2 linked regions of the Homo sapiens genome follow. The protein of the gene in region 1 purifies or fractionates together with the protein of each later gene. This does not show direct contact. Each region holds a gene or a part of one and is shown in the gene's direction. Other genes may lie near its edges.

Region 1 (5,141 bases):
ACAACAAGCTTCTGTTGCCTTGATTACAATTTTAAAGGTTTTAACCTTTGCTGCCCTTTTAAAAGTTTGTTCACATTTTCTCAGCTTTGAGTTCTATTATGAAATAGGTTTGCTTTATTATCATACTTTTTAAAACATTTAAGAACACAATTTGGCAGCACGTGCTGCTTCAAAAGTAAGTAAGTGAAACAGGTTTTTAAAGAAAAGCACCTTTAAATAGATCATGCTGTCTTATAGGTACCATGATATTTATGAAGATTCAAAGATTTTTAGAGACAGAAGATACCTTATGGTAATCTAGAACAAGTCCTTTATTATAGCAATATGAAAATTAGTCCTGGAATAATAAATGTCATACTGTATTTCTAAGGACTTTTACATCCACTTATCACTTGACCCTTACAACCCAGGACAGATAATAAACATGTTTTGTATGAGAAAACCAAACCTCTGGTTGGCTAAGAAATGTATTCAAGGTCACACAGCTAGTTAGCGGCATGGCCAGAGTACAACCATGTACCCCATTTAAAGTATAAATGTGAAATAGAGTACAACTAGTTAGCACCAGAGAGCAACCCTGTACTTCATTTAAAACATAAAGGTGAAATAGATTGATTAGAAAGAAATGACAGACTCTAGTATAAGCTTCTGTTTTATTTAGGTCACACATTGGATTTTACTGTCATAGTTTATTTAAAACACACGGAATCCTAGGATATGCTCAAGGATTCTATTTCTAACTTTAAAACTGGGGTCTGTACAATTAGCATAAGCTGATAAGTTTAGATACATTAATAGAGGGAAAAAGGAATTACATTGAAGATGTAGTGACAGGTTAGGAGTAGTAGGCACATATTATGGAAGATAAACACATAGACCCATGGAACGGCTCCTTGGGGCTCCCAGCAAAGATCAAATACTAGATTAAGGAGACTTAGTGTGGGGAGGACAGTTTTAAAAACATCCGAATCCCATCCTGAACATTTTTAGAAACCAAGACTTGACTTTGGCATCCACAATATGTTTTCATTTTGATGTTTCTGATCCATATGTATACGTTATGAGTAATCAGGAATGCAGTTTGAATTTTAGTAATTTAGTCTCCTTCTCTGTCTGTCCACTGTGTGACCACAGCTTACATTTTCCAGATGGCTAGATGAAAATAGGTGCAGTCTAAAGCTAATTGCCCTCTTCAGCTGTTTAACCCAAGATCAGTATCTTCTCATGAGTTGTGATATAAGCTGTCATATAATTTGTGATATGATGAAAATAATTTAAAAATGCAAAATTTGTAAGCTTTTAAAGTGTTGTATATTTCTAATTAAGCTTAGGATTTGAAAGTTTCAGTGACATAGTGTTTAAATAATATTTAATGCTATAAACAAAATCTAGAGTCAAAAAGCAGTTTTTCTTCCTAAGAGATTTATTTCAGAATGGCATCAAACATGACAACTGGAATGCTAAATCCTCAAATTAAGAAGACCAAAAAAAAAAAAAAAGAAAAGAAAAGAAAAGCTACATGTTGGTTAGAGCCATATATTGGTCCGACTGTGACACAGTTCCCAAACTATAGAGGAAGAAATGTGCTTTAGTCAATATGCTGCGCTTATTTTTTCGTCTACCTCATTCCTGAGATTTACTGTTTGCCTCATATTTTATTTTCACCCTCCTTTGTAAGGGTTATTAGTGTCTTCAAAATTTCCCATTTCAGTAGAAATTGAAGATTGTATGTTACTTCAGCCTTTGTTGGCTTCTGCACACCATAGTCTACGATTATCTCTCCACCATCTTCTTAAATGTTGATATTCCTTCAGTGAAGCACCGTACTAAACCTGCTTGGGATCTCCCTATCCTACAGATGTAGCATAGAGAAAACTGAAAAGAGACCTTGCCTTTGAGTAAGGCAGACCCGAGTTCAAATCCTGTTTCTTATCGACTATATGATGTTGGACAAGATAACTCTTCTTAAACCTTGTTTTAGTCTGTTAAATTTCATCATATATATATGTGTACCCAATATATAATTTTACCCATGTGCCCGTTCACCTCCCGCTGCAACTGGGAGATGCAGTGGGAGGTGGATGGGCACATGGGTAATTCAATTCCAAAATCACCAGTTATGGTGATAAAAGTTTTTTCAAAATTACTGCAGAAAATTCCTTAAAATATCTACTTAGTTGAAATACATGCATGACTTCGTACTAAACACTGTGTTGCTATTGTTATTCTTAAGCAAACTAAAATTTAAGAGCCACTAGGCTAACTAAAGGAAAGAAGCTAAGGTAAATGTCCTGACATTTAAACAAGTCTGCCTTTAATATAACTCTTAAGAGTATGGGTATTGAGAGAAGAGGTGGAGAATTCTAAAATATTTTTGCTTGCCCATAGGTTTTTCATCATGCATTTTTAGTAATAAGCCTCTATAACTAATACATGTTAATAAGCTTATTTTTTCTGAAAATCTAATTTTATGCCAACATTATAATGGTACACTATGGTAAGAATTGCTGACATTCATTGAGCTCTCATGCAGGGTTTGGTCTAATGGCTTTATATGAATTATATCTTTAATGCACCAGCCATCTCAAGTTGATGCCATTGTAAGCTTTATCTTGCAGTTGAAACGAAGGCTCAGAAAATCAAGTAATTTAAGTGACTAATCTGACTTCAGCTGCTTCTTTCAACCACCACACTAGACCCTTGTCTCTTTTTACCATCACCCCACCACTTACCATTTTGCCATATCTTTCTTGAGTGATTATATCCACCTCCGTAGCTTGTACTACTGTACAGTTGACTCTGGGCCTTCAGTCCTTTTTACCTTCCTCTTGGACTTCCACACTCTGTGAATCTAAACCGAACTCATGGTCTTTACTATTCCTTCTCAACCTTCTCATCTGTGTTTCCGGTATGAATTAATATGGGTATATCCACAATCATGTTAGCTCACTTCAGTCGTCTGTGATCATTTCCTTATCACCCACTGGCAGTGGGGGGTGGGAAGGTGGAGGATGTTTGAATCTCAACTTCTTGTACCCTTAATTACCTCATATCTTCTCCTCTTAGTGTCTGTTATCACTGCTTTAATTCATACTTTCATCATCTTACCTAAACAATTATAGCTTCCTTACTAATCTCCTTTCCTCTAGTGTCTCTTCTCATTTTTCCTTTATTTTGTCTAGAATGTGTTTCCAAAACATGAATCATGTCATGTAACTGCTTAGAACCATCCAGTTAGCTCCCTCCTGACTATAGGATATGAAGTCCAAATTCAGCGTTGCAGACTGAGTGTGAACTGGCCTCCAGCTGGTCAGTCCCACCACAATACCTGGTGCACACTGTATGCACACTGTACACACACTGCACTCTAGCCATGTCCTCCGACAGAACACTTTTTTTTAATGCTTCTTCATTTGAACGTATTTTTCGCTTTGTCTAGAACATCTGCCCCTTGCTATACATCTCCTTCTCTGCCTAGTAAACCCCCATTCAGCTTTCTGGGACTAGCTCCAATGTCATGTTTAATAATTCTTCTTCAGAGACCACCCGTTGTCCCCTATCCTTAGCCAAGTTTTTCATGGTTTTCATTTCTTAAGGCACAGTAGGCATGCTTTTATTAAAGTACATTGTATTCAATTATAATTATTTACATGTGTCTCATTCCCTACCTCACCTCCACCAAAGAAAGAAACTGGTTTTTACCTACTCTGTCTCTCTCACTTAGCTACGGCTGGTACATTATAGACATTTAGTATGTTTGTTGAAAGAAAAAATCTGTTCGTATAGGTACTTTATCATTCCAAATTATTTTTATGTTACATTTGTTAGTTTTCTACTCTGAAAGAGTAATGCTTTTGTTGTCACCTAAAACAACATCATTCTCATGTTTATCACTCTAGTCTTTACTGTCCAGTGCTTATTTCCAAATAGAATACAAGGTACAGCATTAATTTGGCCTATTAACTCACAATTTCTGTCCACTGTAAAGATTTATACTTTCTTGAACAGAGAACTAGGAGCTAGGCTCTTTTCCCAAATATGTAATAGGTGTGCAGGGAAGATCTTAGCGAAGGATTCTGTCTTTTTCTAAGACTTTCACTTGTAGGTCTCCTGCAAGTCCACAACATTTAAGTTCAAAAGATGACATAAGAGCCAACCTTTTCTGGCCGGGCACGGTGGCTCATGCCTGTAATCCCAGCACTTTGGGAGGCCAAGGCGGGTGGATCACGAGGTCAGGAGATCGAGACCATCCTGGCCAACATGATGAAACCCCATCTCTACTAAAAATACAAAAAATTAGCTGGGTGTGGTGGCACATGCCTGTAATCCCAACTCAGGAGGCTGAGGCTGGGGAATCGCTTGAACCCAGGAGGTGGGGGTTGCAGTGAGCCGAGATCGCGCCACTGCACTCCAGCCTGGTGCCAGAGCAAGACTCCGTCTCAAAAAAAAAAAAGGCCAACTTTTTCATAACAAAATTATATAAATCTTAGTCTTTACAGTTTGAAGTTGTTTCTGTGAAGATGCTTGCCTGATTAATGGAAAATCTGTTGAGGGTATCATTGTTTTGCTGGCCTGAGTTAATCACCACCCCATCACAGCTTTTACTTAAATCTTGTCTTTCCCTAGCTTTATGATTTCACAGTGTAGCTAGGTGCTCAGTTGAAGCACCCATTTTTCACCTGCACCTAAACTATTTGAAATAGCCCTGTAATTGTCCTCCTGAATACATTTTAGATCTGTTCAGGTCATTCTCATTCTTAAAATATTTCAGTGGTTCTCCTTATTTCCTTCAAAATCAATTTGATTGCAGTTTGGTTAGGGTTTGTTTCCAGACAGATTGCTCGTAACTCTTTTTTTTTTTTTTTAAGCATTCCTTGCCTCCCCCATAATGCACCATGTGCTTTGTGTTGCCTATCTTCATGCCTCTGCACAAACTGTTGTTACCTGCACCTAAAGTTCCTCCCCCATCATCTGTACCTGACACAATTGCTCCCTATTCTGTGTTCCCATGGCATTTTTACAAATACTTCTAAGTATAGAACTTATATTGCATTATGCTTCTTCGCTTATGTGCCTGTTTCTTCTCCCTCCACCCCCATCCTTCAGGATCCTCAAGCCTAGAGACTATGCCTTAGTAAGTT
Region 2 (3,800 bases), on another chromosome or scaffold:
CTTCTTGGGCAAGGCCAATATCTCTACCTCTACCCATTAAGCTTGGATCCTCCTGCTTCTTCAAAGTCTTTGCATTCTCATTCTCACATCTGTAGGTTGTTTTTTGTTTTTGTTTTTTTGTTGTTGTTGCTGTTTGTTTTGTTTGTTTGTTTTGAGACAGGATCTCACTCTGTCACCCAGGTTAGAGTGCAGTGGCATGATCTCGGCTTACTGCAGCCTTGACCTCCCACCTCAGCCTCCTGAGTAGCTGGGACCACAGGCATGCACCACCATGCCCAGCTAATTTTTTTATTTTCTGTAGACAGGGTTTCACCATGTTGGTCAAGCTGGTCTCAAACTCCTGAGCTCAAGCAATCCTCCTGCGTTGGCCTCCTAAAGTGCTGGGATTATAGGCGTGAGCCACCACACCTGGCCTGTAGGTTGTTTGTTTTGTGTGTGTGTGTGTGTGTGTGTGTGTGTGTGTGTTTTTGTTTTTTTTGCTTTGTGTTATTTGTCTGGGAGAGAGCTCATTATTCTTTCTCTGCCTCTGCCTCTTAAGGTTCTTTCCCTAAGCAGATTATTGTGGTTTTCTCCTAAGTTCTAAAAACTTAGCATGGTAAAGTCTCAACTAGAGAGCAAGAAGTAGAATACCTCTTGCTTCTCTTGTTATTTTAGGATAATAACAGTATTATTCTAAAAACATAATTTTACCTCAGAATTCAGCCTTTTAGAACCAAGAACTCTTCAGAAATCTAATTGGTTTTTAACATCCATTCTGTGGAGGTTTTTCACTGTACCGTCCAAGGAAGCTTATCTGTGTCTAAACCTGTAATAATTACTCCCATTTTGAAGTACCACAATGAACCTCACACATTAATCATAGCAGACAATTCAACATGCCCCTAGCATATTATATACTTTTATAATAGCAGACCTTTGCTCTTTTATCATTCTGTGTCTTTGAGTATTTTTTCTTAAGATTCAAAACTGTTTATCCTTTAAGGTCCAACTTAATAGCTACTTTTTTTTTTTTAAGAGAGTCTCACTGTGTTGCCCAAGCTGGTCTCAAACTCCTGGCTTCAAGCAATCCTCCTGCCTCAGCCTCCCCAGTAGCTGGGATTATAGGTGCAAGCTACTGCATCCTGCAGTAGCTACATTTTTGAAGCCTTCTTTGATTCTCCCTTGATTCTCTTCTCTGTTTCCATAGCATTTTTTCTTACTTGTCTGTGATATTTATTGTTATCTGCTTAAAGTATATAATAATTTTTTATTTTTTATTTTATTCTTTTTTTGAGACAGAGTCTTGCTTTGTTGCCATTCTGGAGTGCAGTGGCACGATCTTGGCTCACTGCAACCGCCACCTCCTGGGTTCAAGTGATTCTCCTGCCTCAACCTCCCGAGTAGTTGGGACTACAGGCATGTGCCACCACGCCCAGCTAATTTTTGTATTTTTAGTAGAGACTAGTTTCACCGTGTTGGCCAGGATGGTCTTGATCTCTTGACCTCGTGATCTGCCTGCCTCAGCCTCCCAAAGTACTGGTATTACAGGCATGAGCCACCAAGCCCGGCCTCTAATAATTTTTATACAAACTTATTTCTCTAAGTTAAACTTTATTTTCATGGACAGTCTAATTTTAAATATCTTTGTATGTAGCCTGCAAGGACCTAAAACATAGTTTTGCACATAATAGGTACTCAACAGATGTTTTTCGGATGCCTGAATAAAATATATGTGTATGGAGGTAGTGTAGAAGTATGTGCTTTGGAGGCAGATGTACTAATGTTTCAATCCTGGCTCTGTGACTTACCAGCTGTGTGACCCTAGCTGGTTGCTTAACTCTCTGAACTTCAGTTTTCTTTTCTGAGGAATGAAAATAATAGCACTTACTTTATTGAATTGTTATGATGATTAAAAGAAGATAACCATTTGAGTCATTCTATAGTACCTGGCACTATGTGTTTACTAAATATCATCTGTTAAGATTAAAGACTAATAGAAATGTCATGATTTCTAAAACATAATTGAGATCAAAGTAGTAAGGGTGTATTATTTATCTTTCTAGAAAAAAAAATTATCTTTTTTTTTATTTGTTTTGAGACAGGGTCTCACTCATCAGCCCAGGCTGGAGTGCAGTGTCTCAATCTCAGCTCACTGCAACCTCCTCCTCCCAGGCCCAAGTGATTCTAATGCCTTAGCCTCCTGAGTAGCTGGAATTTTAGGAGTGTGCTACCACGCCTGGCTAATTTTTGTATTTTCAGTAGAGACGGGTCTCACCATGTTGGCCAGGTTAGTCTCGAACTCCTGACCTCAAGTGATCTGCCCGCCTTGGCCTCCCAAAGTGCTGGGATTACAGGCGTGAGCCACCACAACGGACCAAAGCAATTATCATTTGCATATAGCTAGTTGGTATACATCATTTGTGTGTGTGTGAAAACCAAATGAAAAGGTAACATTAACTATATGAAAGATGATATATATTAATTAGGAAACTTGGTCATCGTAAAAAGGAACCAAATGCAAGCAGCTTAACCAAATAAAATAAATTTATCGGCTCACATAACTTAAAAGTCTAGCAGTAATCTGCCTCACGCACAACTGGATCAGTGGCTTAATTGATGTCATCAAGATTTTATCCCTTGTTCAGTTCTGCTTTTATCTTTTCTTGGCTTTACCATGCAGTGTTATGGCCACCAGCAGTTCCTAGAATCCAGTCTTACATATTTTCAGCTGCTATAGAGCTTCTCTTGCCCACTGGCTCCAATAAAAGTCCCAGGATTGAGTATCATTGTTAAGCCATGAACCACTGTGGTCAGGGGTATGGAATGTACTGCTCAATGCTTCCTCCTGAAGTCCCAGAAATAGACTGAGACCATTGCCACTGAAACTGAAGAGGGCAAGAGAAAGAGGAGTGGTACCCTAAAGAAAAATAACGATCCTGGCCGGGCGTGGTGGCTCACGCCTGTAATCTCAGTAGCTCATGCCTGTAATCCCAGCACTTTGGGAGGCCAAGGTGGGCGGATCACAAGGTCAGGAGATCGAGACCATCCTGGCCAACATGGTGAGACCCCCATCTCTACTCAAAATACGAAAACATTAGCTGGGTGTAGTGGCATGTGCCTGTAATCCCAGCTACTTGGGAGGCTGAGGCAGGAGAATCGCTTGAACCCAGAAAGTGGAGGTTGTAGTGAGTGGAGATCACGCCACTGCACTCCAGCCTGGCAACAGAATGAGACTCCGTCTCAAAAAAAAAAAAAAAAGAAAAATAATGGTCCTCTGACCATAAGCAGTGGCATTGGATGCTGAGCATGAAAAACAGCAGATGTCACTCTTTCATATTTGATATCAGATTTCTTTTAAGGATAAAGCATATAGTCACACTGTAATTTGTGTGATTACATGAAAGAAAAACATACTTATGTAAGTAAGCAATTCTAAGTGCATTTTATATATGTCTATATATGAGACTAGCTGTTGGAAATATTAGTGAAAAATGAAGATAAAAGTTGTTTAAATGAAGTTTTTATATAAATTGTCACATCTTTAGGAGGCATATATCTTGTTTAGTTTTACGAGTATATTCAGAAGCTGAATTAATATAACAGTAAAGGATTACATGTTTAAATTTGCTTTATATTAATGATATATGTATACAGAAGAAATCTACAGTCAAATGAAATCTATACTCTAAGTACTAATCATAAAATATATATGTACTGGACAATTTCCTTCTACAGCTATTCTTTTAAAAAATATATTAATTTTATAGAAAAGGAGAGGGAGTTTTTAAATCTGACAACATTTCTACTATCTCCATCCTAAA

Evidence for each region. Proteins that work in one complex are often made in the same cells at the same time.
Region 2: the proteins of BBIP1 (region 1) and BBS7 purify together in Homo sapiens (co-immunoprecipitation; one large-scale study listed by IntAct). This does not show direct contact.

The regions. Positions count from the first base shown.
Region 1 is NC_000010.11:110,908,517-110,913,657, reverse strand, and holds part of BBIP1 (BBSome-interacting protein 1), read left to right. Parts: intron 1-5,141.
Region 2 is NC_000004.12:121,828,675-121,832,474, reverse strand, and holds part of BBS7 (BBSome complex member BBS7), read left to right. Parts: intron 1-3,746; coding exon 3,747-3,800.